Homo sapiens: one gene and its partner. The protein of the gene in region 1 interacts with the protein of each later gene in a pairwise test. Each region holds a gene or a part of one and is shown on either strand. Other genes may lie near its edges.

The links.
Region 2: the proteins of SENP2 (region 1) and FUNDC1 interact in binary tests that used the Homo sapiens proteins (3 or more experiments, as listed by UniProt).

The regions. Positions count from the first base shown.
Region 1 is NC_000003.12:185,612,850-185,618,058, reverse strand, and holds part of SENP2 (sentrin-specific protease 2), read right to left. Parts: intron 4,715-5,209; coding exon 4,651-4,714; intron 3,496-4,650; coding exon 3,319-3,495; intron 580-3,318; coding exon 448-579; intron 1-447. UniProt on the Homo sapiens protein: Protease that catalyzes two essential functions in the SUMO pathway.
Region 2 is NC_000023.11:44,525,206-44,530,414, forward strand, and holds part of FUNDC1 (FUN14 domain-containing protein 1), read right to left. Parts: intron 2,161-5,209; coding exon 2,032-2,160; intron 1-2,031. UniProt on the Homo sapiens protein: Integral mitochondrial outer-membrane protein that mediates the formation of mitochondria-associated endoplasmic reticulum membranes (MAMs).

The DNA of each region.
Region 1 (5,209 bases):
GTAGGAGAATTGCTTGAACCCAGGAGGTGGAGGTTGCGCTGAGCCAAGATTGCGCCATTGCACTCCAGCCTGGACAACAAGAGCAAAACTCTGTCTCAAAAACAAAACCAAAAAACAAAAACAAAAAAATAGCTACTATAAGAATTCACCTAAAATACAGTATCACTTGCTGCTTCCTCCCGTTTATCAGCTGTACCCAGGGTTTATTGAAGACCAGTAAATGAAGTGGTGGATGCAATAAAATACAGACGCAGAAAAGGGAAACATCGCTAATCAAAGGCAGAAAATCAGAACTAACCATCTTTTTAAGATTTAAAATGTTTTTGTTTTAATTATAACTAAGAGTTGCATTACCAACCCATTATAACTGGGTAGGAGTCACTTTGATTATAGATAATAAATAAATAAACTTAATGATAGCCAAAAGGGGGAGGGAATACAACTTACTTCATCATTGAGCCAGTGATAGTTCTTTAATGTCTGAATATCTCCTCGAGTAATTCGCAATTTGAAAGCACTACTTAGGATTTCATCCTGTGGGCCATGGCCTAGGGCATTACTGATTTCCTTTTCCATGTCCTGAATTAGAAAGTTCAGAAGTTGCTATTTTAATATAGAACCATTCATTATCAGTTATTGAAAACTCCGAGACTGAAAAAAGTTTTTCATCTCGGCAACACCTGACTCTTGAGAAAAATATACTATCAAAGACCTACTAAACTACAGTAGGAAAACATTTTTTTCTTATTTTTAGTGATAGAGATGGGGCCTCATTATATTGCCCAAGTTGGTTGCAAACTCCTGGGCTCAAGCAATACCTGCCTTGGCCTCCCAAAGTGCTGAGATTATAGGCATGAGCCACTGCACCAGCCCTGAAAATATTTTAACTTATAACTACAAAGCAGCCTTACTTAATTGTTGTAAGTAATACTTACAACAAATCCTGGTTCACTTATTAGCTTGTGGAAACAATAATTTAATAATAATATTTACATCTAAAGTATAGTCTCAATTTTCCTACTACTACGTATTAACCACTATGAGTCAAACATGGTGTTAGATGCTTGAAGCACATCATTGATCCATATTAGTGAGGAAGACATTATTATCATTTTATAGAGAAGAAAATTGAAACCCAGAGAATTTATTTTACATATTCAAAGTCATATAATTATTAAAAGGTAGAAGAAGATTTGAACCCAGGTGCATCTAATTTCCTGGACTTTGCTCCCTTCATAATAGTAAACTCCTGATTTCCACTTTAAACGTTTTTTTTTTTTTTTGGAGACGGAGTCTCGCTCAGTCTCCCAGGCCGGAGTGCAGTGGCGCCATCTCGGCTTACTGCAAGCTCCGCCTCCCGGGGTCACGCCATTCTCCTGCCTCAGCCTCCCGAGTAGCTGGGATGACAGGCGCCCGCCACCACGCCCGGCTAATTTTTTGTATTTTTAGTAGAGACGGGGTTTCACTGTGTTAGCCAGGATGGTCTCGATCTCCTGACCTCGTGATCTGCCCATCTCGGCCTCCCAAAGTGCTGGGATTACAGGTGTGAGCCACCAGCCTGGCCCTTCTTTTTTTTTTTTTTTTGAGACAGATTCTCACTTTGTCACCCAGGCTGGAGTGCATGCAGCTGCATGATCTCAGTTCACTGCAACCTCTGCCTCCCAGGTTCAAGCAATTTTCATGCCTCAGTCTCCTGATTAGCTGGAATTACAGGTGCACACCACCATGCCAGCTATTTTTTTGTATTTTTGGTAGAGACGGGGTTTCACCATGCTGGCCAGGCTGGTCTCGAACTCCTGACTTCATGATCCGCCCATCTTGGCTTCCCAAAGTGCTGGGATTACAGGCGTGAGCCACCACGCCCATTCTCGCCTTTAAACTTTTAAAACATCAAAAAAGGCTGGGTGTGGTGGCTCACGCCTGTAATCCCAGCACTTTGGGAAGCCAAGACGGGCGGATCATGAGGTCAGGAGTTCGAGACCAGCCTGGCCAGCATGGTGAAACCCCATCTCTACTAAAAATACAAAAATTAGCTGGGCGTGGTGGCACGCGCCTGTAGTCCCAGCTACGCAGGAGGCTGAGGCAGAAGAATCACTTGAACCTGGGAGGCAGAGGTTGCAGTAAGCTGAGATTGTGCCACTGCACTCCAGCCTGCCAACAGAGCGAGACTCTATCTCAAAAATAAATAAATAAATAAAACATCAAAATAAGATTAGGACATCTAAGGGGTCACACCATCCTTTTTGACATGAAGAGAATAAGCAAACAGGCAGAAACTTGGAAACCACCCAGCAGTCTAGCAATTGACTCCTTATGGAATAAATGGCTTCATCATACTAAAGAATTATGCAGATAAATGCATTATTTAAGATACAAAACTAAATCTATAAACCCAATAGAAATTATTTTCCTCTAGGCCGGGGGCAGTGGCTTGCGCCTATAATCCCAGCACTTTGGGAGGCCGAGGTGGGTAGATCATCTAAGGTCAGGAGTTCGAGACCAGCCTAGCCAACATGGTGAAACCCGGTCTCTACTAAAAATACAAAAATTAGCTGGGCATGGTGGCAGGTGCCTGTAATCCCAGCTACTAGGGAGGCTGAGCCAGGAGAATCACTTGAACCCAGGATGCAGAGGTTGCAGTGAGCCAAGATCGCGCCATTGCACTCCAGCCTGGGCAACAAGAGCGAAACTCTGTCTCAAAAAAAAGAAATTATTTTCTTCTAAATATATGCTGCTTCCCACTGCACACAGCTTCACCATTTTATGGATCTCTCTCTCCACCTACATGCCCAATATAACAGTAAGTATTCAAGAGATTTGCCTACTAGGGCAACATTGTGGAGGAAGCCAAGATGTGGGCACATCTTTAAAATAAGAATTTTAACTACCTTCATTCTTTATGTTCTGTAAGTTTTTACTATTTTCAAATGCAATAATCAACAAAGGGGGCATTTTAGTAAACTATAATAACTTTCAAAAAAAAAATGCAATGAACTTATTCTTAATGCCAAACCCATACTATATAACTCAACATATTTGAAGGTTAGAATTTACAAAGAATCTGTTGTATTCCAAGATATGAGATGACTGTGTCGACTCCCCATTTGCTGAATATCAATCTGATCCCTTAGGCCACTAATGATCATGCCTCACTAAAGATCAATGTAGTCAAAGTGAATCAACAGACCATGGACCTGACATGTTTTCATATATTCACCCCTAGCCTGGAGAAAGTCCTCAAAACAAAACATTCAAGTTAGAATAACTGAGGTTATTTAAAGACATGCCTCTTTTTAGGATCAATACAAAGAACAATACCTCTGTAAGTTCAAGGAGATCGTCCGTTCTTCTGTCCCTCTCTTTGCCTGAGCAATTCTTTTCCTTTGTCTCAATTATTGACACTTTCCTCCTGAGTAAGCCATTGCTTCCACTGCCCAGGCGGAGTCGGGCCGACACTTCTTCTGATAGGTCAGGCTCCAGTTGGTATCCCCTCCTCTGATCAAAAAATTATCTAAATTCTACTGACATGTTTGATACTTGCAAATATAAACACAGATTACACATGAAATATAAAACTGCCACTAATGTGAAAGAAAAGAGAATTAGCAAATCCCCCAAGTGAGTAGATTTACCCTATCTGTCTGTCCCTGCAAGGGGGAGCAAAAAAAGCTCCAGACCTAGGCCTCACAGGACCCTCAGTTATGAACCATCAAACAGAACACTCACCACCTTCCCTGGAAGTAGCAAGAAAAGTATTTTCAGTTCTCCTATCACAATTAAAATTAGTATGTTTAAAAGATATTATGAAAGTTTTAAACAGCAAAAAATATGACCCACAATCCCATCACTCAGAATAAATCCCTACTATCTTTATAGTAACTCAACTTGGTTCTAGTTTATCCTTGAAAAAAGTCATTTGATATTACAGAAAATGCACAAAACATTAATGTACCACTTAATTTGAATGAACACCTATATAACCACAATTGTAGTAAACAAATAGAATTCTGCCAGCAACCCAGAACATATCATCTCTTTCCAGAGATGTATGATTTTTAAGAAATTCTCCCTAAGAAGCCATAAAATGTAGGTAACATGTTGGTATGGAGGCAGATTGGTCTCTCATAAACAAAGGTGGCTACTGTACAGAGGCAAAACTCCAACAACTCAGAAGGAAGAAAAAAGTTGTGTATTTTCAATGCTTCCTGCCTTTTTTTTTTTTTTTTTTTTTGAGACAGAGTCTCATTCTGTCACCTAGGCTGGAGTGCTATGGTGTGATCACAGCTCACTGCAGCCTTGACCTCCTGGGCTCAAGCAATCCTCCCACCTTAGCTTCCCAAGTAGCTGGGACTACAGACATGCCACCATGCCTGGCTAACTTTTAAATTTTTTTGTGGAGACAGTCTCACTATGTTGCCCAGGCTGGTCTCAAACTCCTGGGCTCAAGTGATCCTTCTGCCTTGGCCTCCTAAAGTTCTGGGATTACAGGCATGAGCCACTGTGACTGGCTGGCTTGCTGCTTTTTTAAAGAAAAACAACAGAATTAACAATCAAAGTTATATATATATACTTTTTCTTGCTTTTCATGGGCACCAAAACATAAGTTACATAAGTAAACAGGTATCAAATGTAACTAGGATTTTTACTTACACTTTCATTTTCAAATCTGATTCCGACCATCGTCTCTGTATCAGTAATTTTCCCCTTTGAACACCTAAGGAAAAAAATTGAGAGATGATAGACTTCTGCTAGATGATTCAAACCTAGTACATCCTAGTTTTAGAAATAAGATTTCGTAATTTGTACATAAAAATTGTGTTGAGTTTACATAATACTCTAAACCAGGAGTCAACGAACTTTTCTGAAAAGGAACAGACAGTATTTTAGGCTTTGCAGGTTTTATGGTCTTGGGCACATCGTGGCAACTCTGCCACTGTAATTTAAAAGCAGCCAGACAGTATGTAAATGAATTCGCATGTTCCAATAGAAATTTACTATACAAAAATAGGCAAGTAGACCAGATTTGGCCCATGGGCCATAGTTTACAAACTCTGCTATAAACCATCATCCCAAAATCCTAAAGCATGCAGAGCTGCCTTTACTGTTCCTATCCTAAAGACACTGACACTAGACATCCCCACTCCAACCAAACTCCCATCTAAGAAGCATGTGTTTCTCCCAACCCCTGACGCCTGGGAGATAAGGGGCA
Region 2 (5,209 bases), on another chromosome or scaffold:
AATTTTTTTTGGGGGGGTGAGTGGGAACAGGGTCTCATTCTGTCAGCCAGGCTGGAGTGCAGTGGCACAATCACGTCTCACAGCCTCAAGCAATCCTCCCACCTCAGCCTCCCAAGTAGCTGAGACTATAGGTGCATGCCACCGTTCTAATTTTTGTATTTTCTGTAGAGACAAGGTCTCTCTCTCTTACCCAGGCTGATCTCAAACTCCTAGGCTCAAGAGATCCTCCTGCCTCAGCCTCCCAAAGTGCTGGGATTACAGGAGTGAACTACTGTACCTGGCATATAATTCTTAATTGGGAAAAAAAAAGCCACACAAGATATTTTGTAGAAAAATATTAATATGAACTGCATATTAGAAAATACTGGCTGGGTGTGGTGGCTCAAACCTGTAATGCCCAGCACATTGGGAGGCTGAGGCAGGCAGGCTGCTTGAGCCCAGGAGTTTGAGACCAGCCTGGCAACATGGCAAAACCTCATCTCTACAAAAATATAAAAATTAGCTGGGCATGCACCTGTAGTCCCAGCTACTTGAGAGGCTGAGGTGGGAGGATCACTTGAGCCCAGGTGCTCGAGGCTGCAGTGAGCTGTGATCACACCATTGCACTCCAGCCTGGGTGACAGAGCAAGACCCTGTCTAAAAAAAATTAACAAAGAAAGGAAATACTATTATCTCATGTTACATTTTTTTTTTATTAATAATGGCATTTGGCCAGGCATGGGGGCTCACGCCTGTGATCCTGGCACTTTGGGAGGCCGAGGCATCATGCACACCTGTAGTCCCAGCTACTTGGGAGGCTGAGGTGGGAGGACCATTTGAGCCAGGGGAGTCAAGGCTGTAGTGAGCCATGATGATGCCACTGCATTCCAGCCTAAGCAACACAGCGAGACAGAATGAGACCTGTCTCAAAAAAAACAAAAAAAAAAAACAAAAAAAAACAGTTGGCCGGGCCTGGTGGCTCACGCCCCTAATCCCAGCACTTCGGGAGACTGAGGCGGGTGGATCATGAGGTCAGGAGTTCGAGACCAGCCTGGCCAACATGGTGAAACCCTGTCTCTACTAAAGATACAAAAAATTAGCTGGGAGAGGTGGCGCGTGCCTGTAATTCCAGCTACTCAGGAGGCTGGGGCAGGAGAATCGCTTGAACCCGAGAGGCGAAGGTTGCAGTGAGCCAAGATTACGCCACTGCACTCCAGCCTGGGCTACAGGGCGAGAACCCGTCTCAAAAAAGAAAAAAAAAGTTTCTGAAGTGGCAGTTCCCACACAGTAAAAAAATAAAAAAGGGGGGGGGGCGTATTCATAGTTGTATAAGAGAATATCTGTACTCTTAGAAGATACATACTGAAGTATTTAGGGATGAAAAGTTATGACATCTTAAATACTTTGGAAAAAAAATTATCTGTGTGTGTCACCCACACACAGATAAAGTAAACACGGCAAATCATGAACAATTTGGTGAATAGATGAAGGGTATTGAGATATTCACTATATTTGTCTTTCAACTTTTTAACTGGTTTGAATTTTTTCAAACTAAAAAGTTGAGGGAGGTAAAAGGATAAAACAAAAACAAAGGCAAGGAAGTATTCAATTCCATTTTAAACAGTACAAAAGTAAAGGGTCAAATTACACCTGAAAACATTAATAAAATATATTAATCATATTAAAAAAACATATTTTCAAACTATCCTCAAGAAAAAAAATGTGTACTTTTAAGTTTTACTACACCTGTACATGTTCATTTATAAAGGCAGAGGAAATATGTTGAAAAGAATGTTCTTAGTTTTTACAACAAGATCAAAGTGAGCTAGAGATATGCAGGGGAATCTATGATAACCACCAAAAAAAAAAAAATAATGACTGATTTAAGTAGTGGTGTGATCTCAAATTTTACTTAACACTCTAGATATATAACCAAAAACACCATTTTTAAAAAAGACAGTAATCCCCCCCGGTCACATTTTCTGCTAAGGGATACCCATTAACCAAAAAAAGGAAAAAAAAAAAAAAAGTCAAAATTATATATCATCTTACTTCTTCAATTAAATTGTTGATTTCAGGTGCTGCTTTGTTCGCTCGTTTCTTAATCTGTCTTTTTGCTTTATTTACATCTTTTTCAACTCTCTTCCAGTCAATCTGCACATAGCCACTATGACTAGCAATCTGCAAAAAATATAATAAAAATTATCAATACTATACCAACTAGGTTGCTGACTATAATAGCCAAGAATATATAAACACTTAAGAGTTCTAGTAACCTATAAAACTTATAGCTAAGAAATTGCTTTTTCTCCACTAGTTTATTCATTTAACAGACACTAGTGCCTACCCTATGCTAAGTACTGAATAAGGGAGACATAAGCCCCTATCCTCAGAGAGCTTCAGGTCTGTTAGGGAAAACAGATATTAAGCATAAGTAAGTAACTAATTATTTAGATGTGATGAACAGTGTTTAGTACATGATGGGAAAATGATTCCAAAAACTGTCTTTTAACTATACTATCATTCTGTCACACCTTTTGGAATAGGGAATTAGTTAAAAAGATACAGAGATTATCTAGATTATATAGCTAATTTAAAAATACTTTTTAATTAAATAGATCTTTAATTATAAGGGATCATAAGCCAATCAGTTATTAGATCACTAAAGAAATTTAAGTAGCCTGGTAAGTATTTAAATAGCTCTCTTTACTTAAATTAAGAATACTTTCTGGTAATTGCTTTTGAAAGTAGAATATAAAACAAACTGCACTCTACACAAGTTTCATGCCATAAATCCTTTTAATAAAACTATAGCTAAATGCCTATCATAAGAAAAATTATCATATGGTACTACTGAGAGACTGCAATATCTGAACAGGAACAACAGTGTGTGTGCAAGCCAGTCCAGTAACTCAGTGCCTCCAAATAATAAAATAGCCATATATACCATTATAAATCACTTCTGTCAAGCTTATGCTTTCTTTGTAATTTTTTAGTGCATCACTTTTCTTTTGCCATTTGCACCCTGAATGAACACACTGACTTTTAGCCACACAGAAAATACTTTAAATAATAAAAATATCTGATTTTGCATAAACAGGCTGACTAGAAATCTTAGGTTCTATTTTGTCTGTGAATGACTCCATAGAAGAATTTGTTTATCTGCATTTCTTCTTGTATTTATTCATCTACTATCACTTCAAACTCCAGCCTCAGCAAAACAGTGGTGATCAAATCAAATGGCAAGTGAAGGCTTTTTCTGTTAGTACTTGATACAGCAATTTGAGTCACAGGCATGGAGGTGATGATGAACCTTAGGAAAATTCTACATATAAATTGAAAAGACTTCTTATTGGCTTGCACTAAGTAATCAAAATAGTTGATTACTTTGAAGCTTTTGCAGAATTTTACTTTTTGCTGAATCTTAACATTTCTTCTTAATCCAAAGCTTGTGAGAAGTACAAATATTTTATGTATGTATATGGCTTTATTTTTTGGTTAGAACAAAATTTTTTTTATTTTTGTTTTTTGAGACGGAGTCTCGCTCTGTCGCCCAGGCTGGAGTGCAGTGGCGTGATCTCTGCTCACCGCAAGCTCCGCCTCCCGGGTTTATGCCATTCTCCTGTCTCAGCCTCCCGAGTAGCTGGGACTACAGGCACTTGCCACCACGCCCGGCTGATTTTTTGTTTTTTAGTAGAGAAGGGGTTTCACCGTGTTAGCCAGGATAGTCTCGATCTCCTGACCTCGTGATCCACCCGCCTCGGCCTCCCAAAGTGCTGGGATTACAGGCATGAGCCACCGCGCCCGGCAGAACAAAAATATTATCTATACCACCACTCATCAGCAACTCCCAATTCAACTGTCATTTTCAAGACTTAACATTTTAAGTTACAAAGTTTTTTTTAAAAAGCTAATCTTCATGCCATGAGTTAAATTGGAAGTGAAATTAAAAAAACAAAAAACAAACCTTAACTATATTCCCTGGGTGAGACCCCTTATCCACCCCCCAATCCCCAGCAAATGAATAAAGGAAACCATTTTAATGAGACAGATTAAACAAATTCTCACAAACAGCATTCTATACACAAAATATTTTTACATAGCCATTTGTCACTGATAATTAGTAAACCCAGTGTTATCTGAGATAAAGATTTTGTATAATTTAAAGAATTCTCTACGTTTTGGGGGAAAATGTCAAACAGTTGCAAGGAAAATGAAAAACCTTGAGATGCTAAAGATACTAACGCCTCTTTGGAAGAAGACTTCCCTAACACCTCCAAGCAGACAGAGCGTCTTCCCTCTGCTCTCTCAGCACTAAACACACCCTTCTAGCTCAGCACTGACCATATGGGCTGTGAATCTCTATATCCCTAGAGTCCCAACTAATGCCAGATGAATGAGACATAGTAAATAAATGATAACAAAGACAATGAATAAAGACTAAATCTCAAAAGCTGTATTAACCAACCTGGCTCAAATAATGACTCTCAGCAACAAAATGGATGAGCTAGATTATCCCAAAGGACCCAACCTAGCATGTCTACTAACAAGAGAATGATCTTTGATGCTGGAGTGATCTACCATCACTGAACAAATTCCCTTGAGAATCTGTTCCCTTGCAGGAAAAATGAAAAACCTTGAGATGCTAAAGATATTAATGCCTTAAAAAAGAGAGAGAGAGATGAAGTCTCACTATGTTGCCCAGGCTGGTCTTGGACTCTTGGCCTCAAGCCATCCTCCTGCCTTGGTCTCCCAAAGTGCTGGGATTACAGTGAGCCACGGCACCCAGCTGAGAAGTACACTTCTGATCAAACCGAAGAATACCAGTCTAAATTGAGCACCCTGCTCCAGTACAGAGATGACCAAGGACAAGCAATCTGCCCCAAGTGGGGTTCAGGTACAACCAACTTAACCAACCAATACATACAGGACCCAATTCAGTCTTGTCCACACAAAATTCATCTGCAACTACAAGGAAATGCAAGCCAACAGACTGGGGAGGGAATGGGGCAGTGATGACTGCTTTTTGAACATTTGACTTCCTATAACACTAAAATATTTAATGGGATTACATAAGGTACTTTTATTAGAATAAAAGCTTCCAAGTTAAAAATAAATAAATAAAATAAAATAATTCCAGGCCGGGCTCCGTGGCTCACGCCTGTAATGTTAGCACTTTGGGAGGCCGAGGCAGGCGGATTACCTAATGCCAGGAGTTCAAGACCAGCCT